Linked DNA regions of Homo sapiens: region 2 is linked to region 1. The links come from fine-mapping of genetic effects on gene expression. A gene starts in region 1. The other region holds a variant in brackets. All regions are shown on one strand. Distances are between the middles of the regions. Region 1 holds the start of TBC1D2 (TBC1 domain family member 2). Region 2 overlaps TBC1D2 (TBC1 domain family member 2).

The links. PIP is the estimated chance that this variant, and not a neighbour inherited with it, causes the effect.
Region 2: its variant is fine-mapped to the expression of TBC1D2 in tibial nerve (GTEx, PIP 0.97).

The regions. Positions count from the first base shown.
Region 1 is chr9:98,249,339-98,261,234 of GRCh38, reverse strand. TBC1D2 (TBC1 domain family member 2) reads left to right here and starts at 5,586. Exons shown (of 13, transcript NM_001267571.2): 1 at 5,586-6,062; 2 at 9,309-9,450. The coding sequence starts at 5,694. RefSeq lists enhancers at 4,862-5,351, 11,572-11,896 and a silencer at 5,522-5,571.
Region 2 is chr9:98,217,256-98,229,151 of GRCh38, reverse strand. It overlaps TBC1D2 (TBC1 domain family member 2), which reads left to right. Exons shown (of 13, transcript NM_001267571.2): 5 at 4-200; 6 at 7,924-8,319. It overlaps MIR6854 (microRNA 6854), which reads left to right; the gene lies at 1-3. Among named protein-coding and RNA genes, the nearest start is that of MIR6854, 6.0 kb to the left of the region's middle. RefSeq lists an enhancer at 5,283-6,482 and a silencer at 10,091-10,385. The variant C/T (reference allele first, on the strand shown) is at 6,122.

The sequences.
Region 1 (11,896 bases):
TAATTCCCCATTCCTCCCTCCCCCAGCCTCTGGTAACCTCTATTATACTTTCTGTTTCTATGAGTTTGCCTCCTAGGTACTGCATCCATGTTGTAGCATGTGTCAGAATCTCATTATTTATAAGACTGAGTAATATCCCATTGCATATATCCTACAGTTTCACTTTATATATGTAATTATCTAATTTACCTAAACTCTATTTTGATAAATAGTGCTATGGTGTAAATGTTGGCGTCCCACTCAAAATTCATATGTTGGAACCTAAAACCCAATGTGATAGTATTAAGAGGTAGAGTCTGTAGCAGGTGATTAGGCCTTGAGAGTGGAGTGCTGATGAATGAGATTAGTGCCTTAGTAAACGAGGCTTGAGGGAGTCTGTTTGCCCGTTCCACTGCGTGAGGAGGCAGCAAGTAGGCGCCATCTTTGAAGCAGAGAGCAGTCCTCACCAGACACTGAATCTGCTGGCACCTGGACCTTACACTTCCCAGCCTCCAGAACTGTGAGCAGAGGTTTCTGTTGCTTACAGAATACCCAGCCTAATGTGTTTTGTTATAGCAGGCTGAATAGACTAAGACAGATGCTATAAGATTAATATATAAACTTAACTGAATACGTATATTTTTGTTTTTCAGAACTTTGTACTTGGCTCTATTGATGTGCCTGTCCATGTGCCAAAAACACCGAATTCTGTTGCTCCTGTAATACTATTCACTTTCTTTCTAGCACGTAGGAGACTCTGGAGGTTACTATGTTCATTTACTTCTTTACCTGCCTATTACCCACCTCCTTTGACTAAAATGAAAGCTCAATGTGAGCCGTGACCTTGTCCCACTCATGACTTATCCCTAACATTTTAAATGGTGACTGATGGAAAGTGCTTACTCAATACTTGTTGGCCAAATTACTAAATGTAAATGTCTGGTAGGTTAAATCCTTTCTAGTTGTCCTTTCTCTCCAAAATGTTGGCAACTCTCACTTGTTTACTTCTGAAAAAGTAAAACTTAAAGCTGGGCACAGTGGCTCAGGCCTGTAATCCCAACACTTTGGGAGGTCGAAGCAGGAGGATCATGTAAGCCCAGGAGTTTGAGACCAGCCCGGGCAACATAGTGAGACTGCCATCTCTACCAAAAAAAAAAAAATTTTTTTTTTTAATTAGCCAGATGAGGTGGCATGTGCCTGTAGTCCTGGCTACTCGGGAGGCTGAGGTAGGAGGACTGCTTGAGTTCAGAAGGTCAAGGTTGCAGTGAGCTGTGATGATTGCACCACTGCACTTCAGCCTACCTGGGCAACAGAGCAAGACCCTGTCTCAAAAAAAAAAAAAAAAAAAAATGGAAAAGAAAGGGAAGGGGGAAAGACAGGAAGGAAAAAAAGAGTATGTAAGAATCATTTTAATAGGCTGCAAAAATTCCTATCAACCCCTCCAGGAGGTGGAGCTACTTATAAGGGGGGACTGAATTTAGCAACCCAATTCCAAAGAACAGTGTGTTGAAATGAAAAGGAGCAGCTTTATAGCAGAGAAATCTGGCAGACCCTACCTTATCCAAGTGATTAACTTTTCTTGTTATTAAAACCACCACTCCCGGCCTTAACATCCTTTTAAAATGAGAAAATTTAGGCCGGGCATGGTGGCTGATGCCTGTAATCCCAACACTTCGGGAGGCCGAGGTGGGTGGATCACCTGAGGTCAGGAGTTCGAGACCAACCTGGCCAACATGGTGAAACGCTGTCTCTACTAAAAATACAAAAAATTAGCCGGGTGTGGTGGCGAGCACCTGTAACCCCAGCTACTTGGGAAGCTGAGGCAGGAGAACCGCTTGAACCCGGGAGGCGGAGGCTACAGTGAGCCGAGATTGTGTCACTGTACTCCAGCCTGGGCAAGAAAGCAAGACTCTGTCTCAAAAAAATAAATAAAATAAAATGAGAAAATTTAAGCTACACAACTTAACAGTATAGGAACCATGCAGATATCATGTACTCTGATGTTGTGATGAGACGGGCACCTCACCTCTGTGGTAGTCTTCCCCAAAACATAACCTCAGTGAAATCATGAGACAAACCCAAAGTGATTGTATTCTACAAAACACCTGACTAGTATTCTTCAAACTGTCAGGACCATGAAAAACAAGGAAAAACAGAAATACGTCACAATGCAGAGGAGACTAAGGGAAAATGATGACTAACTATGGCATCTTGAATGGGATCTTGGAATAGAAAAAGGCTATTGGTACAAAACAGACAAAATCCAAATAAAGACTGTAGTTTTGTCAATAGTTTTTTTTTTTTTTTTTGAGAGGGAGTCTCGCTCTGTTGCCCAGGCTGGAGTGCAGTGGCACGATCTTGGCTTACTGCAAGCTCCGTCCCTGGGTTCACGCCATTCTCCTGCCTCAGCCTCCCGAGTAGCTGGGAATATAGGCGCCCACCACTACGCCCGGCTAATTTTTTGTATATTTAGTAGAGACGGGGTTTCACCATGTTAGCCAGGATGGTCTCGATTTCCTGACCTCGTGATCCACCCACCTCGGCCTCCCAAAGTGCTGGGATTACAGGCGTGAGCAACCGCACCCGGCCTTGTCAATAGTTTTGTACCAATGTTAGATGTTTATTTTTGCCAAACATACCAGGATTAAGCAAAATGTTAACATTAGGGGAAACTGGGTGTAGGGTCTACAGAAATTCTCCCATTGTCTCTGTAACTTTTTCTAAAACTATTCAAAAATAAAAAGTTTTTTTAAAGCCTATCGAGGCCAGGCATGGTGGCTCACACCTGTGATCCTAGCACTTTGGGAGGCTGAAGTGGATGGATCACTTGAGGTCAGGAATTCAAGACCAGCCTGGCCAACATGGTGAAACCCCATCGCTACTGAAAATACAAAAATTAGCTGAGCATGGTGCCCTGCCTGTGGTCCCAGCTACTAGGGAGGCTGAGGCAGGAGAATAGCTTAAACCCAGGAGGCAGAGGTTGCAGTGAGCCGATACCGCTCCAGTGCACTCCAGCCTGGGTGACAGAGCAAGACTCTGTCTCAAAAAAAAAAAAAAAAAAAAAGCCTATCGAGAGTTTGATTGAAAATGTATTAACTGTATGGATTAATTTGAGGAATGTGACATCTTTACAATATTAACTCTTCCCACTCAGGGACATATTTGGTTTGTCTTATATCCTACTATAAAGCAATAAGGTATTCATTATGTAAGTCATTTATGTAAGGGATGTTGTCCATTATATTTTCCATTTGTTTGCTGCTGGAGACATCTATACACATATGCACAGTTTTTTAAAACAGGCCACCACTTGAGTTTTTCTGGTATACGTAATATATTTATAATTATTCTTTCAAATATTTATCATTGCCTAGCTACAAAACCTAGAACAAATAAGGTATGCTGTTTGTTTTATTAAGAGGTTTTAAAAATCAGGAATGGGGCCAGGCACTGTGGCTCATGCCTGTAATCCCAGCACTTTGGGAGGCCAAGGCCGGTGGATCACAAGGTCAGGAGATCCAGACCATCCTAGCCAACATGGTGAAACCCCGTCTCAACTAAAAATACAAAAATTAGCTGGGTATGGTGACGCGTGTATGTAATCCCAGCTACTCGGGAGGCTGAGGCAGGAGAATGGGAATTGGAGAGCATGCCACTGCACTCCAGCTTGGGCGACAGAGCGAGACTCTGTATCAAAAAAAAAAAAAAAAAAAAAAATTAAAAAAAAAGAAAAGAAAAGAAACTGGCTGGGTGCGGTGGCAGGAGAATCGCTTGAATCCGGGAGGCGGAGGTCACGGTGAGCCGAGATCGCGCCATTGCACTCCAGCCTGCGCAACAAGAGCGAAACTCTGTCTCGAAAAGAAAAGAAATATTTTGTCCCACATTCTGTACTAAGAGCTTCACACATATTATTTTATTTAATTATCAAAACAACTCTAAGGGTAGACAGGTGTAGATCCAGGTTTTGTGGGGACTGGAATTAAACAGCATTAAGGGCCTTCTGATTTTTAAAAAATTACAAAATTATGAACACAAAATTAGGTATGACGATGGTTATTTAGAATGAGAAAATAAATTGTAAATTATAACAAATGAAGAGCTCTCTGGCATTTAGGAGAAATGCTCCCTGGTTGCAACTCCCCACCTGTTAGACTACAAATCCCAGCGACCCATGCAAGTGAACATAAATTTCATTAGCTTCACCGTAAAGTTGTCTGGCGGCGGGTCGGGGGTGGGTAGGAAGAAGTGTTATCTCCATTTTTAGGTTGAGCAAATCACTCAGTATTGCAGAGTGGGAATCTGAAAATTATGCAAATAGACTCTAGAGCCCTCGCCTTTACCCCCACCCTGCTTCTTGTCAATATCACTGAGTGTGCATGAGGGTCTCGTTAACGACGGCTGAGGGGGAGACGATGAAGTAAGAGGAAAGGCTGAACAAAGGGCAAGAGAAAGGCAGAAAGAAGCTCCTAAAGAAAGCTGGACGCAATTGGGCTCCGCAACCCTAATGGAGAAATGCGCCTTAGGAGGGAAGGGGAGAAGTTTAAGGGGAAACAGGTAAAATGAGGCAGAAGTTGAGCAAGTTAGTCAAACCCTAAATTCTTTTACTTATTTACAAAACAGCCTGGCGCGGTGGCTCTCGCCTGTAATTCCAGCACTTTAGGAGGCCGAGGCAGGAGAATCGCTTGAGGCCAGGAGTTCAAGACCCCCCTCTCTGCAAAAAACAATTTAAAAATTAGCCGGGTGTGGTGGTGCGCAGTTGCGGTCTCAGCTACTCGGGAGACTGAGGCGGGAGGATGGCTTGAGACCGGGAGGCGGAGACTGCAGTGAGCTCTGATCGCGCCACTGCACTCCAGCCTGGGTGACAGAGCCAGACCGTCTCTAAAAATAATAATAGCAATAACAAAATAAAAATAAATGTACTGCACCCAACTATGACCCAGGAGTGGCATGGGTTTCCGCAGCGCAGCGGCCGCGCCTGGGCGCCCCAAGCAACACAACCAGCGCTGTCAGGAGGCGAATAGGAGCCAGGACAGAGAGCTGGGGAGGCCACTGCTGTCAGGCGAGGGATAAGAAGGCCGTCCGCGGCGTCACTGACGGGGCTGAAGGAACACCAGGAGAAGAGTGGCAGACAGCTCCGGAGCCGCGCTGCCCGGGCGACGCCGGAAGATGGGCCTCCCAGCGGTCTTCCTTTCAGCCAATGGCCGCGAGATGCGCCGTCCGAGGGTGCCCCGCGCGGCACAGGGAGGGAACAAGCAGCCCATCGGGTGCAAGAAAGCACTATCTTTCTAGGTGACTATGCGAACTACCAGGGAAGTGTAGCTAGGGACAGGCTTCTCTGCCCGCGGTTAACCTAACTCAGTGCCACCACGCCTTTAACCTGAAGCCAGGGAGCACGGCTGCCCTCAGTAAAGATGGCTGACTGGCGCGGAGAAAAAGCCGGAAGCAGCTGGGCTTTGCAGGGAGCCGACTGAGCGCTGCGGGGGCGTGGCCTGGCGGTGGAGGGGCGTGGCCAGCCGCCGTAACCTGGGTTTGCGATCTTTGAGGCGCGCGCACCGCACCCGGTCCCGACTCTGTGGCTTCCTGGGGGCGGGTTCGCCGTCGGCCCCGCCCCCGCCCAGGTGTCTCCCTTTGGGAAGCTGCCCGCCGAGTCTCCGAGATTTGTCCCTGGTGGTCCCGCGGACCCCTCGTCCCTCCGCAGTCTCCGGCTGGCAGCGATGGAGGGCGCTGGGGAGAACGCCCCGGAGTCCAGCTCCTCTGCCCCTGGGTCCGAAGAGTCTGCCAGGGATCCACAGGTGCCGCCTCCGGAGGAAGAATCGGGGGACTGCGCCCGGTCCCTGGAGGCGGTCCCCAAGAAACTCTGTGGGTATTTAAGTAAGTTCGGCGGCAAAGGGCCCATCCGGGGCTGGAAATCCCGCTGGTTCTTCTACGACGAAAGGAAATGTCAGCTGTATTACTCGCGGACCGCTCAGGATGCCAATCCCTTGGACAGCATCGACCTCTCCAGTGCAGTGTTTGACTGTAAGGCGGACGCTGAGGAGGGGATCTTCGAAATCAAGACTCCCAGCCGGGTTATTACCCTGAAGGTAAATTCCTGCAACGACTTTCTCCTTTCCAGCGGCGTGAGGTCCCCTTTTCGCAGGGCAAGGCTGGGCGCGAGTGTGAGGTGGACACAGTAAATTTGGAGTGTCGGTGACGACAGTTCCAAGAACTTTGTGCTTTGCAAAGTGCATTCCCACCCATTTCCTCATTGGGTTCCCACAAGGCAGGGAAGACAGACCCATTTTACGGATCAAGAAACTGAGTCAGAGGGAGATGAAAGGACTGGCTCGAGGTCCATGCGTCTAGAGAGTAGGGTAGCTTGGAATCCCATAGTCTTTCTACCTCTCAGTGCTGAATCAAAACTTTTACTTTTGGGTGTGCCTGACAGTGCAGTTACCTTAACTTTCTTACCTGGGACCTAAGTAAGTCAAAATATGGTCTTTGCAATCCTCTCTCAAGGCCAGGATTCTGATTCCCGTTTCTTGATATTTTGGCCAAGGTCAGTGAATGCTGAGAAGAGACTGGCAGGGATTAGGAAAATAAACACTTAGGTTTCACTGATCAGCCTAGATTGTTCATCTAGGCATGCTTAAACCTGTTTTCCTATCAGCAGCAAGGGGTAGGTTTTATCATCATGTGTAACTGAGAAAGCCTAAAGCAGTAGAAAGGCCACATTCTTTGAAATCAGACGGGCTTGGATTCAAATTGTACATTTGCTACTTACTAGCTGTGTGACCCTGGACAAGTTACTTAACCTCTCAGAACCTAGGTGGTTTGTAAGCATTTGACACATCACAGGCATGTACAAATTGTTGAATTAATTGCATCACCTAGAATACAGCCTGGTACCTAGTGGAGTACTTAATAATTTTTTGTTGCATAAGCACACATGCACACACAAGGTGATGGAACCAAGGTCAGAGTGCTAATGTCAAGAGGAGGTGTCCCATAACTTAATTGGAAAGACAGATCTGGGCTAAGTGTTCTATGGGCATCAGAGAAGAATGTGCCAGGAGATAGCCTTCCCCACCCCATCCCCATCTGTCCACCCCTCCAACCCCAACTCCAGCTAAGTGGGTATCTGTGGATGCCCACGTGTTCAGTTCTCCTTTACTGACTGGACTTGGCGGGTGACCAGGCTGGGGGACTTGGTTAAAATAATGAAACTCAGGAATCCCTGGCCAGGGAAGGCATTTTCGAGGTCATGTGGTTCCCGGGTCTATGTGTCTCTTCCACAGGTTGACTGCTGTATGCAGGGTCTTCAACACATGGTCTTTATAATAGTATTCCATTGTTCCTGGCTCTGCGCTTGGCGGGGTGTGGAGCTAATGCACCCCCACCCCTGGTTCTCTGACAGCTTAAAGTCTGGTGGGAGAGACTGAGGGAGAACCTGCATGCACCCTGAAATGTTCTGTAGAGACATGTGATAAGTCTGTGCAAGAAGGTGTGGTGACAGGAGGAGTCAGTTCCACCAAGTGGAAGGGGCTAGCCAGAAAGGCATCTGGAGGAGGGACACACCCAAGGCTTGAAAGAAGAAATAGGTGGCAAGCAGACAAGAGGGAGAAAGGTATTCCAGGCCAAGAGAGCACCGTGAGCAAATTAGGAAACCATGATACAGCCCTGAGTGTCCAGGCAAATCACATGAGCCAGAAAAACAGAGGGGCCCAAAGGATGGAGTTGAAGAGCAGAGGCCCGAGGGTGGGGAATTGGCAAATTAGGCCAAGTAGCAAAAGCTCAGTCTGACTATTGGATAGAGAAGAAACTAGGGGAAGGGCAAGGCTGGTACTCAGGGAGCCCATCAGAAGGTGATCAGAAGAGAGTGACAGCTGAACTAGAGCTGTGGCTGTGGGGAAGGGGACAATGGAGGTGTCTCGGGATAGTAGGGAAATAGAATGAGGGAGATGTCAGGAGTGGCTGGAGTAACTGGCTGACTGCCTGGTTGGGTCAGTCACTGACAGGAGGGAACTCAGGATGAGGAGCCCATGGAACATCCAGGTACATGTCCCCTGCAGGAGACTCTCAAGTTCCAAGGGGACAGGGACCATGTGTGTTGGCTCACCCCTGTATTCAGTGCCTAGCACTATCTCTGACACATATGTCAATGCTCAGTATACCCTTGTCAAATGAGTTAATAAAATGGGGTATTTGGGTTCGGCTGGAGCTCATCAGCATTAAGGTCATGGGGAAGACCTGGGAGGTGCTGCAGTCTCTCTGAGAGAGTGTATGGAAAGAGAACACTGGTGGGCATCATTTATCTTATTGATACCTGTGTGACAGCCTGAGGGTCACTTTCACAGACTCCCCCCTGCATAGTGCACACCAGTGAACCCCTGAGATAGGGAGTTTGCCTCTGTTGCCATGTAGCCCGCTGTTGTTCTCATGTGGCCTTGATTGCAGGCAGCTCTCTGAGAATCCCCATCCACGCCCGGTGAGCTGTTCATCTTCTGCAGTCCACCTCAGCTGATCTCAGGCCTTCTTTATGAAGCCACTAATCTCCTGGCCATAAAATCCAACTTCTAGACCAGGGTTATGGGACTAGTTCTACCACCACATGCCTGGGCAACTTCAGAGGTTTAGTTTCTCCATCTGTAGAAAGGGGTGCTCACTCCTGCCTTGCCTCCCTCCTGAAGAATCCAGGAGTTATTGGATGTGAAAGTGGATGTTTGGACCAACCGCCAGCCAGTGCTGGGAGACTAATGACCAGCATTTACCATGAACTTGTTTGGAGGGCCAGAGCACCTGGAAGGTGCCACCATGTTGTCACATGTGCATGTGGCTTTCCAGTCTCCATTCATATCCATGATTCCAGTGCATCCCCAAGGCAAGGATTACTCCTATTCCACAAAAGGCAGCAAAGACTTGGAGATGTCACACAGAGATAGTGATGGTACCAGGACCCCACGCATATCAGAATTCAGTGCACCTCCCCCTCTCACAGCGCCTCCAAATTCCTCTATCCAGTGAGCACATTTTGAGCACCTACTGTGTGTCAGATACTGTGTGATACCCTTGTCTCATTTCATCCTCATCATTGTCCTATGCAATGAGACTTATTGTCACCAGAGTACAGATGAGGAAACTGAGGCCCAGAGCAGCTAAGGAACCGCTGAGTGGGAGACCAGAGCCTGATGATCTTCTGTGGCCAGGAAGCATACATACCTACAGTGACCCCCTTTTTTTTTTCCTGGGAAAGAAAGCATTCCTAAGCCTCCCACAACCTTCCCCTCTTCCTGCACCCAGTGCCACCCTTCAGGCACAGGGCCTTGCCAACTAATCCTTGTGCTTCTCAGGCCGCCACCAAGCAAGCGATGCTGTACTGGCTGCAGCAGCTGCAGATGAAGCGCTGGGAATTCCACAACAGCCCGCCGGCACCTCCTGCCACCCCTGATGCCGCCCTGGCTGGGAATGGGCCCGTCCTGCACCTCGAGCTAGGTACCCAATGGGCTACCCTCCTGCCTGCACACCCAGGGCTCTGGTGATTAAGCCTTTACCCTCCTGCTGGGAATGAGCGGGAGGAGCCCTCTGCTAAGGAAGCAGAGAGCCAGGGATATGACTCAGGATTAGTTAGGGCAAGAATTTGGGCTGAGGCCAGGCTGCCTGGGTTCAAATCCTAGTCCTATATAACTTTAGGCAAGTTGTTTAACCTTTCTGAGCTTGTTTCCTTCCCCATAAGATGAGGTTTATAAATTATCCCTACTTCTTAGGGATGTTTTGAGGATTAAATGAATTCATATACCTAAAATGGTTAGAACAATGCCTGCACATGGTCAGAACCCAATACTTGTGAGCTACTATTGTGATGACTATTATGGAAGGCCTCAAGAAATCAAACTTTCACAGAATTGCTGTGAGGAGGGTTAATAAGAAAATGCAGTGTTGTAGATTTGTGTCGTGAGTTGGGTAGATCAGTGACTTTTTTTTTTTTTGAGATGGAGTCTCACTCTGTTGCCCAGGCTGGAGTGCAATGGTGCAATCTCGGCTCACTGCAACTTCCGCCTCCCGGGTTTAAGCAATTCTCTGCCTCAGCCTCCCGAGGCAGCCTCAGCTGGGATTACAGGCACGTGCCACCACGCCCGGCTAATTTTTGTATTTTTAGTAGAGATGGGGTTTCACCATCTTGGCCAGGCTGATCTTGAACTCCTGACCTCGTGATCTACCCGCCTCAGCCTCCCAAAGTGCTGGGATTACAGGCATGAGCCACCATGCCTGGCCAGATCAATTATTTTTATCGCTGGTGTTCCCATAAGATAGGATCCTTTTCCCCCAGATGACTCACAAATGAAGTTTCTTGATCCCAAATCCTGGATCATCCCAACGTGGAAGAGTCCAGGAGACCACACCCTCCCACCCCCATGCTGCAGCCAGGAACATGATTGGCAGGTTTTAGGATCGGTATGGACCACCTCACAGCTGCCCCTGCAAGAATGTGGAAAATCAGGTCCCAGTACAAAGCCACACTGTGTCTAAAGTGCTTCATGTTCAGTTGACAGGGAGGCCAAATAGGCAAGGGCAGGACTTGTTACCAAGTACCCCCTGGACCTCTGTACCTGGGTGCTTTGCATGTCCAAAGCTGAGTACATCTGCCCCAACCCTTCTCCCCATTTCCCTTCCCTCCTCTCAGTAGATTTCCCCTCTTGTACCCACTAGTAGTTGCCCTCCACCCTTCCTCAATTCCAGCCAGTGAGTCCAGTCAATCACTGTGCTGGCCATTTTTGCCCTCTGACCCATACATCAGACCCAGGCCTTTCTCGCTGCCACTGCCCAGGTCACACCTCATCTCTCAAAGTCACAGTGGCCTCCTCTCCAGTATCCCCATGTGGAGGCCATGCCAGAACCCATCCCCTTCTCTGCAGCCTGAGTGAGCTTTCTTAAACCTGACCCTGAACCCGGTCACTGCCATCCAATGCCACCCACCACCTCACTCCTGCACTCAGGGCTCATCCCTCCTGATCTCACCTCTGCCTGCTCCCCCAGTCCCCACCTTGGGCTTGATGCTTCGGCAGAGTCTCTGCTCTCTCTCCTTTGCCTGGCAAATTCTTGCTTATTCTCTATGGCCAAGCTCCAGCATTGCCTTCTCTTCTTGCCAGCCTCCTCCTGGAAGCCTTCTCAGACTTTGTCAGCTGGATTCTCTCTGGGCCCTCAACACTTTTTTCAAACACTTCAAGGGAGACCTGTTCCATTGTGTTCTATTAATAATTACCCCCGTCCTTGTCCATCTCCACCCGCTAGCCCTTAAGGGTGGGGACTTTTTTTTGGTTGCCTGTGTCACCTCCCTGGTGTCCTGCCTGGCACATTGGATATTTGTGGAATGAATGTGTAAGTCAATACACTAAACTTTATAATTAAATGAGGAAAGGAATGTAAACCCCTTAGCATAACCTCAGGCACATAGTAAGTGCTCAATACATGGGAGTTGTCCTAATAATATTGTTATTCTATGTCTATATGTCTGTGCATAGAACACACCCATGCTATTACTATCATAATAGTATATACACAAACATATATAGGTGCTGTTACTAGTATAATAACTGTTCCTTTTATTCTTAATAATCATTAGTAATTTCTTTGGAGTTTCTTTTGAAGGGTTTCTTTGCTTCTGCTCCAGCCCCCACTCCCCATCTGCCAGGGAGCCAGACAACCCTGGTTTTGCAGAAAACTGCAGCCTGGGTTGATGCTGCTGCAAAGATCAGCATCAGACTAGAGGCCAGCAGAAACCTCTGCAATAATAGAATTCCTGTGTCTTAACTGAAATTTGAAGAAGCAGATTGTGGAAGAACGGCTCTGGGATCCTCAGACCTCTTCTGCTGTGGGGAACCTGTTGCAGGTTCTTTAATTGTGCGGCTTTGCTTCAGCACACACGGCGGGCCTCTTCCAG
Region 2 (11,896 bases), 32 kb after region 1:
CAGGGAGAGAGCCAGAGGATTCTCCAAAGCCTGCACCCAAGCCTTCTCTGACCATCAGTTTCGCTCAGAAAGCCAAGCGCCAGAACAACACCTTCCCATTCTTTTCTGAAGGAATCACACGGAACCGAACTGCCCAGGAGAAAGTGGCAGCCTTGGAGCAACAGGTTCTGATGCTCACCAAGGAGTTAAAGTCTCAGAAGGTGAGGTCTGGTCCCAGGGAGGCCCCAGGTTCCAGTGGACCCCTCCAGTTCCTGGAGCCTTTCGGATAAGCTAGATGGGACGCATTAGCCGTGCTGGGCACCAGCTACTCTCTGGTCTTTAAAGGCCAAACTGCAGAATGTTGAAATATGCTGTTGATTACTCAAGAACCTGATGTCACTCAAAGTAAGTCACAAAAGGGCACCAAGGGCAGGTATCTCTGGAGATCTACTCTAATAACTGTCTCTTGGACCCCTCCTGGAGGGCCATGCATGGTCTCACCCCCTACCCAGAAAATGACATTATTTAGAGGCAGGTGATCTGGATGCAGGGTCATGGGAGGGGCTGTCGATAGAACTGGGGGGAACTTTGACCTGGCAGCCGATATCTGGGCACAGATATCTGAATGACCGTCACAAGACTGTCACAGGAGAAAGCAAACAAGCAGCATGTGTGTGGCCCAGGGCTAAGCCAGGACCAACACAGAAACAGTGAAAGGAATATTTGGGCTTAATATGGTAAGAAGTTAATTACGAGAGTTACAAGAGCTATATAATAATTGTAGAAAACAGATCTCATACACACAGACATTAAAACTACTCCAAAATCCTACATCCCAGAGAGTAAATGGTATTAAAAGCCAGGGGCTACCTTATGAAGTAGTGAGGGTCCCAGGGCAAAGATGTGAGAGGGCTGCAGCTCCGGGCGGGAGCCCCTCTTTAGAGTGATAAAAGCGACTAAGTTAGGCAGTTGTTACATAAATCCCAACGGTGGGGCCTGGTAGGACCTGTGGTGGCAGTGGCGGGCTCCAGTGAGGGCCCAGACTCCTTTTCCTCTAGAGGAAGGCCTAAGCTTTTGTGTTTGAACTTTGGCTGCCCGGAGGCCCTTTCTGCTTTGTTTTCCAGCCCTGACTCCAGAGGACTTAGGCTGGGGAGGTGGGGCTTATGCCCTATTACCTTCTGAATATTTCTTATAACTTGTACATTTCTTCTTTTCTTTTCTGCCCTATTTTGGTGGGAAGAAATCTAGAAAAAATGCTCTCCCTATACCTAGTTTGGCCCCTCGTCTGCCTTTTCTGCCCCTAAGCAGTGACCACTGTCAGCAGATCTCAGGGGAACCGGCAGAGGCTTCATTCCTGGCATGTCAGAAGTTACTTTTTTTTTTTTTTTTTTGAGACAGAGTCTCATTCTGTCACCCAGGCTGGAGTGCAGTGGTGCAGTCTTGGCTCACTGCAACCTCTGCCTCCCGGGTTCAAGCGATTCTCCTGCCTCAGCCTCCCAAGTAGCTGGGATTACAAGCACCTGCCACCATGCCCAGCTAATTTTTTTTTGTTTTTTGGTTTTTGTTTTTAGTATTTTTATTAGAGACTAGGTTTCACCATGTTGGCAAGGCTGGTTTCGAACTCCTGACCTCAAGTGATCTGCCCACCTCAGCCTCCCAAAGTGCTGGGATTACAGGCGTGAGCCACCGTGCCTGGCCAGGAGTTACATTTAGTGAAGCAACTGGTGATTAGACATTAGAGTTCTCAAAGGAGGGGGCTCATTTATTCATACGTTCTTAACTCATGTGTTTATTCACCAAATTTTTATTAAGGGCCTGTTATGTGCATGCAGTGTTCCAGGTGCTGGGAAAGAACAATGAGCAAAAGACACAGGCTCTGCCCTTACAGCTTGCATTTCATGGCAGAGACAGACATTAAACAAAGCAACACCCAAATGTGTAGTTATAACACGTGAGGTCCCCTCTGCTGCTGCTTAGCAGCCCAGCTGTCTTTTCCTCCTGTCATCATGGTGCTCCAGTTCTGAGGCTGCTGGACGCTCCTGAGAGCTGAGAGGGCATGAAACAGAGCCATAGCAGCTACTTGATCCCTGGACTAGTAGAGCTTAAATCCGAAACCCAAACCTGGAAAGAAAAAGAAATCCTGAATATACGGGCAGCCTCTCTTGACACAGCCTTTCTTTCTAAGACATTACAAATTGTCAGATGAAGTAGAAAGGCCCCAGGAAACCTAGATTTCATGAAAGTTTGCCCCTGATTGCTCTGCATCTCTGGAGGACTCATCATTCTTCAATAAATAAAGGCAAGATTCTTGGAGATTAATAAGGGTTGACCAGGCTATTGACAACTCCCATATATTCAGAGGGAAATTGTCAGGAGGAAGTTGTTGATGCATTGAAGAATCTGGATTTTTTTTCTACCAGGTAACCTTCCACCAAACCTCGACTTTGTGTCCTGGGACAGAGGGTCAAAAGGAGAATGAGTTGTGATTTATTTAGTTTATCCAATTATTGTGCAATAGGAGTGGATTTGTTTACTCTCCAACCCATTCCACAAATGAACTTCAGTCTTCAGGGTGATTCAAAGAACCAGCCTTTAAATAAGACAGCACAGGCTCAAATTCTGGCCCTAAGCAAGTTTCTTAACCTATCTAAGCCTCAGTTTCCTCTTCTGTAAATGGAGTTGCAGCCGTGTTTACTGGAGAGACCTGTGCCCAGATTCATAAAGCCCAGTACCTGGCACCCAGCAGCTGCCCAACAGATGCAGGCTCTGGTTGTTCTGGCGATTACTGCAGCCCTCCTTACCCTCCATGTCAATCTCTTCCTGCCCTACAAGCAGTGAGGTGCCCTGCTGAGGGGCTCAGAGACGAGGCGGGAAGTGAGAGCCCATCAGTGCCTTCAGGAAATGTGCCGTGGGGCCATAGCAGTGATCAGGGAGCTTAGGTCTTCATTCCACATTAGGAAGGGAGGAATGGCAGCCCCGTAACTCTAGGGTTTCACCTGTAGCCCAGATACTGAAACCAAAGAGGTGAGACAGAAAAAGCCAGCACAACTTCTGGGTGCCCAGTGGTGCCCCCAGGCACTCAGAATGCCGCTAGGAGAGCCGCTGTCCATCTGAGACCCTCATTAGAGTCCCATTCATCAGCTGGGAAGATGGGCACCTGGAATCCCAGGAGCTACCCCTGCGAGGTACCTTCCTGTGTTTCTTTAGTGGGAAGGCACCTCCTGTCTACCTCAAACTTCAGGAGGACATGGGAATTTGGGGTCTTATCCTAGCTGATCTGGCCATTGCCAGTGGCTTTCGTGACTCTTTAGGAATTTCTATCTCAAACACTGCGAGATGCTCTTGAGAGCACATTGCAGACAAATCCCTGCCCTTGGGCACCTCACCATCTAGTGGGGAAGAGAAGATGTGAGCATGGGAACTGCTGGTATGAAGCGCGGCCCCAGGACTGTGCTGAGCCTTCCCATGTGTTATCTCTGTCCTTACAATAGTTTTCATCCCCTTACTCTGAAAGGGAAACTGAGGTTCTCAGAGTGTCTGCATGCTCAGGGTCTCCCAGGGGCTAAGCCAGCATTTGAGGAGCTCAGAGGAGTTGGGTGACTTGCCCATGCGCAGGCAGCTGGAAAAGCCAGGATTGGGGCCCTAACCTCCTTCTCCAAGTCTAGAGGCTGGGCTGCCTCCTCTCTTCCATAGTCTCATGGTGAGGCCCACTATGAGACACAAGCACCAAAACTGCTCTTGAGAAAAAATGAATGCACTCCCTGTGTACCCCCTGGTGTCATATTAAACCACAGGTTGACTTCAATACCCATTAAGCCATTATCTGTCCCCATACCTGCAGCACTGGCCCCACAAGAGGTTTGGGCTCTAGGAGATAGCACCAGATGGCTGATTGGCCGGGGACTGACCCTTGGAGTTGACAGAACTCCACCCAGCCTGAAGGCCGTCTGCTCTGGCAGATGGAAGGCTGTTGTCTGTGGTGATGTTGGCCATCTGTTGGCGGCTGGGAATGATGAACCCCTCTGGGACCCTGCCTGCGGCCCTCTGGGGCCACCTTAGTTCAATCAGGATTACTGGGTAAAGGAACGTAATTTTTTAGGAAACTCAGTGGGGCAACGTATAGCCTCTTACTTTCCTAGAACTCCAGCCAAAAACTTCAGAGGACATGAAAGAGGGCTGGGAGGTACCTTGGCCATGTCAGCTTGGGGAGGGACACTTGGCACTTTCTCTTTCATGCTAGAGGCAGTTCTGAGCAGAAGAGGAAGCTTTAGCCCCATTCATGAGAAAGCTGAGGTTCAATGAAGAGGCCACCTGAGCTACCCTCCTTAGAGTCACCTCGTTAGATACACCCCCCACGGATCCAGAATGGGAACCGAGGCCTGTGCAACTCCAAAGCCCATGCCCCTTCATCTGACCCCTGTAGGGCCCACCACTGATGAAAGTAGCAATGCTCTAAAAAGATAAAGGATTATTTTTTAAAGATGATTTATTGGCTTTTAAAAATTTAAATAAAGTGACAACTTATGACCACGTATCAAAATCTGAGATGAACCAAACAACTCGATTGAGAAATATTAAAAGTACCACTTGGGCCGGGCATGGTGGCTCACACCTATAACCCCAACACTTTGGGAGGCCAAGGTGGGAGGATCTCTTGAGCCCAAGAGTTCAAGACCACCCCGAACAACATAGGGAGACCCTGTCTCTACAGAAAATAAAATAATTAGCTGGGCAATGTGGTGCATGCCTGTAGTCCCAGCTACAAGGGAGACTGAGGCAAGAGAATCTCTTGAGCCCAGGAGGTTGAGGCTGCGGTGGGCCGTGATTGCGCCACTGCACTCCAGCCTGGGCAACAGAGTGAGACCCTGTCTCAAAAAAAAAAAAAAAAAAAAGAAAAGAAAAAAAAACACTTCAAAAAGCTTAATTTCATCAACCCCTCTATTTTTCTTTTCTTTTCTTTTCTTTTTTTTTTTTTTGAGATGGAGTCTCGCTCTGTCGCCCAGGCTAGAGTGCAGTGGTGCGATCTCAGCTCACTGCCAGCTCCGCCTCCCGGGTTCACACCATTCTGCCTCAGCCTCCTGAGTAGCTGGGACTACAGGCACCCGCCACCACGCCTGGCTAATTTTTTTGTATTTTTAGTAGAGACGGGGTTTCACCATGTTAGCCAGGATGGTCTCGATCTCCTGACCTCGTGATCCGACCGCCTTGGCCTCCCAAAGTGCTGGGATTACAGGCGTGAGCCACCACGCCCGGCCCAACCTATTTTTAAGAATTGGTCCTAAGACATTGCTTATAATCCAGACTTTAGGTTTCTTGAATTCATGACATTCTCACTCCTCATCTTACAAGTCCTACTGAGGCTCCCTCCCTCTGCCCTGGTTCCGTTCTTTTAAGCCTATTTTATTCTGGTACAAGAATTCTGGGGGTGGGAGGAGAGCCTCCTGGGCTGGTGTCTCAGTCTTAGATTCTGGGAGCCAAATGCGGGAAGGAGACAGCTAGATGTAATGAAATAAGCTTCAGAGTCAACTAACTCCCCAAATTGAGGGAAAGACACCCACTGGTCCTGCTCCTAGGGCAAGTCTGAACAATGATGTCTGTTGGTTATTTCCCTGGGCAGTCATCCAAGGTAACCTCCAAATCTCAGCTGAAGCAGAAAATGGCCTAGGCCCCCAGTTTTCCTGGAACCACAGGAATGTTAATCTCTCTCCACTGAGCCCTGAGAAGCTGACTTCTTCATTCTGGACGTTCCAAACATTCCCTTTTGGTTTGCAATCACTGTGCTGTCCTCACCCCAACTTCCTGCCACACCCCAGGGCTCCCACAGCTCCATGGTAGCTCTTTCCTTCCTCCAGGTCTTTACTGGGGCTGTAGCTTGGCCACATCTGGAGGGCCATCCCCACCCTCATCTCCCACCTGCTGCTCGACCATCTCTGGCCCTTCTCATTCTTCACAGTTTCTTTTAAATGCTCTGGACTGGTATTCCCCACAACCTCCACCCCAGACAGAAGTCATTGCCTTTCCCACAAACACCCTTGTTCCCCTGACTTGCAGTAGATCATTCCACTGTGGTGGGTCATGTTCATTCCCACCAGCCTTTGCAGTCCTTGGAGGTGGGAACTCTCACCACTCCCTCTCTGGGCCA[C/T]GGCACCTGGCTCAGGGCCTGGCCTGGCACCGAGTGGTGCTTGGTAAAGGTTGGATGGATGGATGGGCATGTGGAAGGAAAAGAGAGAACCAGAGAAAGGATGGTCACTAGTCCTAAGGTTTCAGAAGATGCAGGCTAATGTGGTCTTGTCATTAGCTTCTCCAAAAAAGTCATGGTTTTTGGCAGTTTTCCTCCAATATAGAATTGTTCTTAGCAAATAAGGCTATCCAGCCAATCCACTCATTTTAATACTTTGGTGTGGTATAGTTGACATGTCTCTAGGAAACCATGTTTTTCCAAATGAGAAGCACAGAGCAGGGCAGTGTTGCCTGAAAGTCATACCTACCTGGTATTAGTTCCACGTGGACCTGGCTGCTGATGTCCTGATCCTGGCCCAGAACAAATTCACATCCCTGCTTTGGGACAGATAGGCCTGAGTCCAGGCGTGGCCCTCCCTGGGGAAATTACAGGCTTAAAGGCACAGGGAGCTGAGCAGACCTTGAGTTCCTGTGTGAATTAGTTGCCCCTGCTGAGGAATAAATCAAGCTCTATTGTTTCTGAACTTTCTAGAGTTCCTTCCACCAGCTTTGCAGGCATCGGCTGGTGGGCTGAAGGTAACTAGGCACAAATGGCTTGAATGAGGTCCTCTGTGTGTGGCTTTACATGGGGATTGCCAGTGTATTTCCTCTTTAACCCTGACTCAACTTGATTGGTAGTGACTGGCTGCTATATTGAGAATGATTCTGAGGCCTCAACTAGGGTAGGCTGTGCAGGAAGAAGTATGGGAGATTAATTAGTGATGTCTGCCACAGGGATGAGAGGGAAGAGTAATGCCACATAGCTGCCACCCCTGGTTTTCTTAGTTACTGAGCACAGGCTTTGGAATCTAGCCAATTGAGATTGAATTCCATTCTACTCTCTGCTGGGCCTCAGTTTGTTCATCCCTGAAATGGATGTGTATATGTCAGGGTATGGGTTCAGCTGCTGTGACAAAAACATCTCCACTGGGTGTGGTGACTCATACCTGTAATCCCAGCACTTTGGAAGGCCAAGGTGGGCAGATCATTTGAGTCCAGGAGTTTGAGACCAGCCCGGCAACATGGCAAAACCCCTTCTCTACAAAAAAATACAAATATTAGCCTGGTGTGTTGGCATGTTCCTGTGGTCCCAGCTACTTGAGAGGCTAAGGTGGGAGGATCAGCTGAGCCCAGGAGATTGAGGCTACAGTGAGCCATGTCTGTGCCACTGCACTCCAGGCTGGGTAACAGAGGGAGACGCTATCTCAAAAAAAAAAAGTTTCAAAGCACTGTGGCCCAAAACGAGTGAGAGGTTTCTCATTCACATTAAAGAACCCAGAGGTAGGTGAGCAACTCTGAGCTGGGGGGCAGCCCTTTCTCAACATGTACCTTCTGCTGTGGGTCTGAGGCGGCCACTCTAGTTCCTGCCACTTCCCAGCCAGAAGCAAAGAGAACTGGACCAGAGGAGCGTGTATCTAGTGGTTTTAAAGGTAGGACCCAGAAGCTGCCCATCTCACTTTTCATTTCCCATTTAGGCAGAATAGTTACTTGGCTACACCTCACCATGGCTTGGCTGGGAGATGCAGTTTTAAGCTGGGGAACCATGTGCCCAGCTAACAGTCACTTGAACAGAGAAGGAGAAAGTGAGTGTCAGGATGAGATGCCGCAGGGATGCTGCTGGGCACCTCTCACGGTTGTTAGGAGAACTACTGATAACATATACCCCACTGTGGCGCCCAGCAGGCCCTCCCTGAGCTCACAAGATTCTTCCCTCTCCCTGCCCAGGAGCTAGTGAAGATCCTGCACAAGGCACTGGAGGCCGCCCAGCAGGAGAAGCGGGCGTCCAGCGCATACCTGGCGGCGGCTGAGGACAAGGACCGGCTGGAGCTGGTGCGGCACAAAGTGCGGCAGATCGCGGAGCTGGGCCGGCGGGTGGAGGCCCTGGAGCAGGAGCGGGAGAGCCTGGCGCACACAGCGAGCCTGCGGGAGCAGCAGGTGCAGGAGCTACAGCAGCACGTGCAGCTGCTTATGGACAAGAACCACGCCAAGCAGCAGGTCATCTGCAAGCTCTCTGAGAAGGTCACCCAGGACTTCACGCACCCCCCTGACCAGTCTCCTTTGCGCCCCGACGCTGCCAACAGGGACTTCCTGAGCCAGCAGGGGAAGATAGAGCACCTGAAGGTAGGGGCCTCCCCTCAGGGCCTGCCAGTCCTGCCGGTCCTCTGTCCCAGCCCTCAGGGAAGGTGCGCTCTCCACCCCTAAGGGTTTGCTAGGTGGAGTGGGGATACCCCTTCATCCTAGAATATTCACATTAGAAACACATGTTGATGGGAATATTGCTCTACGCTTCTTCACTTTCTTTACCACAAGGCCCAGTGCAGTTTGCCTGGGCCTTGATTGACCCATTAACCAGTAGCCCTGGTATCCTGGGCTACTGAAAAGTGAAGGTGCCTCTAGATTATCAAATGAGAGATGAAAGCCTGACTAGCTAAGTGTGGGGCCTGGCCTGGTCAACCTCCCTTAGTGCCATCCCAGTGCACCCGAGAGCCCTAAGGGGCCAGCACGACCCTCCCCCCACAGTCCTGCGCCTGCACACTGTACGGATGACCTGCAGCTGCCAATAGTCACTGCTCCCATCTGTAGAATTTATAGGGTGTTTCCTGTGTGCCAGGCACTGCCCTCGGTGGGTGCATCGCCACATTTAGTCCTCGCGCCAGCCCTGTGAGGTGAGGCAGCCGCTGGTGTGCTCCCCCTTTACAGATGTGGAATGCTGAGGCTGAGAAAGGTTAAGGAGCCTGCCCAGGGTCATGTGCTGAAGAAGTGGAGGAGCTGGAGCTGGGCTGGAGCTCATGTCTGCGGTCTGGTCTGTCTGCTCAGCTGCCGCTTCTAGCTGCTGCCACCATCCCTGCTCCTCCTTTCCTCCCCTTCCTTCCCCTTCTCTGTCCCTATCTTTCCCTAGGCTTCCCCACCCCACAGGGACCAGTGATGTCACAGGAGGTAGGAACTTTATGTGAAGTGTGTTGCCTGCCGTGACCCGCAGCCTCCTCTCTAAAGGGTTGTGACAGGAACTGTCCCACTGGGAGGCCTGTGGCTGTGGAGTGCACTCATAGCCTCCACTGTCCGTAAAGGGAGCCATACAACCAGAGTTCGTCCTGCCCCAAACCCTGCCACTCACAACCACATATGTACAGTCAGATGCCATATAACAGGCTGCATATGTGATGGTCCCATAAGATTACAATGAAGCAGAAAAATCCCTGTCACATAGTGACATCATAGCCGTCATAACATCATAGCACAACATGCTACCTTTTCTATGTTTACATGTGTTTAGATACACAAATGCCATTATGTGACAGCCACCTATGGTATTCAGTACCGTAACAGGTGCACAGGTCTGCAGCCTCGGAGCAATAGGCTACACCATCTAGCTGGGTGCGTAGTAGGCTAAATCACCTAGGTTTGTCTGCGTCCAGTCTACAATGTTTGCACAACAGTGAAATCACCTAATGACGCATTTCTCAGAGTGTATCCTCATAATTAAGCCACACGAGACTGTACATATAGACTTATAACCTTGAGAACTCTCATGCTACTCTATCAAAGAACTACTCGGTGAGGGCAGATGGAGAAAGAAAAAAAAAGAAATCAGGAAGCTTTTGAGAGAAAAGCTCTCAGTGGGCAGTGTTGAACAGTGGCCACCACCCAAGCTTTGAAGTCAGACTGACCTCTTTGACTCTTGGCTCTGCCTCTTTCTGGCTGTGTGACTTTAGGCATGTTAGCTCACCTCTGTGTCAAATAGCCCAACTAGTCCTCTTGACTAGGGCTGTTAGAAGGATAAAGGAAAAGGACGTGAAACCTGATTCCCTTCCCTTTCTTTCAGCAAAGACTGAAAACCCACATAACCAGTTCCCGAATCTTTTCCCTTATTTAGTCTGAAATCAGAGATTCTTTTGGGTTAAAAGAAAAACATAACCTTTCCAATGCAAATGCAGCCAGATGATTAGAAAGCTCTCAGCCCTCCACACAGCAGGGAAAACTGCTTCCATCTGATTGCTTTTCTACCCTGCCTGCCCCCAGCCAGGCGGCTTCCTCTTCTCTCCACCCATACTGCCGGAATCCACTGTGCAAGCCCCGGTAGAGCAGCACAGGGGTCAGAAAGATTTGTGGTGGCGCACGCCTGTGTTCCCGTCTACTCTGGAGGCCGAGGTGGGAGGATCGCTTGAGCCCACGAGGTGGAGGTTGCAGTGAGCTGAGATTGTGCCACTGCACTCCAACCTGGGTGAAGGAGTGAAACACCATCTCAAAGGAAAAAAAAGAACACTAGATCAGCCAGGTGGCTCCAGACAGCCTGAGAGTTGATTGTAATCATGGACTCACTAGGAGACTGAGTGTGCCCCTGAATTTACATATTCAGGAATTTTATTTTTTTTTATTTTTATTTTTTGAGACGGAGTCTTGCTCTGTCACCCAGCCTGGAGTGCAGTGGCGCGGTCTCGGCTCACTGCAAGCTCCGCCTCCCAGGTTCACGCCATTCTCCTGCCTCAGCCTCCTGAGTAGCTGGGACTACAGGTGCCCGCCACCATGCCCGGCTAATTTTTTTGTATTTTTAGTAGAGACGGGGTTTCACCATGTTAGCCAGGATGGTCTTGATCTCCTGACCGCGTGATCTGCCTGCCTCGGCCTCCCAAAGTGCTGGGATTACAGGTGTGAGCCACCGCACCTGGCCATGAATTTTCTTTATCAGTGAGCTCAGCTACATGGAGACTCTGGGTATGTGATTCACATTAACCAAGAATACACTTGCATATGATCCTCAGAGGCCCAGTGTTTTGTGCTTTGTGCTTTAAAGGGTTGCATAAGGCCAGGCATGGGTGGCTCACACCTGTAATGCCAGCATTTGGGGAGGCTGTGGCAGGAGGATTACTTGAGGCCAGGAGTTAGAGACAAGCCGGGGAAACATAGCAAGATCTCATCTCTACAAAAAATTAAAAAATTAGCCAGGCACAGTAGCACGTGCCTGTAGTCCCAGCTACTTGGGAAGCTGAAGCTAGAGGATTGCTTAAGCCCAGGAGTTCATGACCAGCCTAGGCAACATAGCAAGACCCTGTCTCTAAAAAAAAATAAAATAAATTCACTAGGTATGAAGGCACCCGCCATAGTCCTAGCTACTCAGAAGGCTGAGGTGGGAGATTACTTGAGCCGCCCAGGAGTTCGAGGCTGTGGTGAACTGTGATCACGCCACTGCACTCCAGCCTGGACAACAGAGTAAGACACTGTCTCTATTAAAAAAAAAATAAAAAAGAGAAAGAGTTGCATGTAGTTGGTGTTCCTTAGTTTTTAGCTTTTAGAATACCCATCAAATATCCATTGTCTTGAGTTTGAGGACAGAGAATGTTGAGGTTTCCTGCCTGCCCTGTGATTGAGGAACCCAACTTTAGGGAATGCCCCTTGTTATTCAGACTTTGGTTTTGAGAACAGGATCACTGACCTCTTGAATATCAGATCTGGAAAGACTCAGAAATCTAGTCTGCCCCACTCATTTTCTGGCAGGGACAGCTGAGCTGGGGCAAGGGAGAAGGACTGGCCCAGGGTCAGGCAGCAAGAGGCAGGGCTACAGCCGGAACCTGGCCTCCCATGCCCAGGCCACTGCCTTCCACACAGCACAGGGCCTAGTCCATGGGCATGGCCCAAAGAGAATTCCCGGGCTCCTGCTTCCCTGGTCCCCCTTCTCCAGGGTTTTCCTTCTTTCATTCCA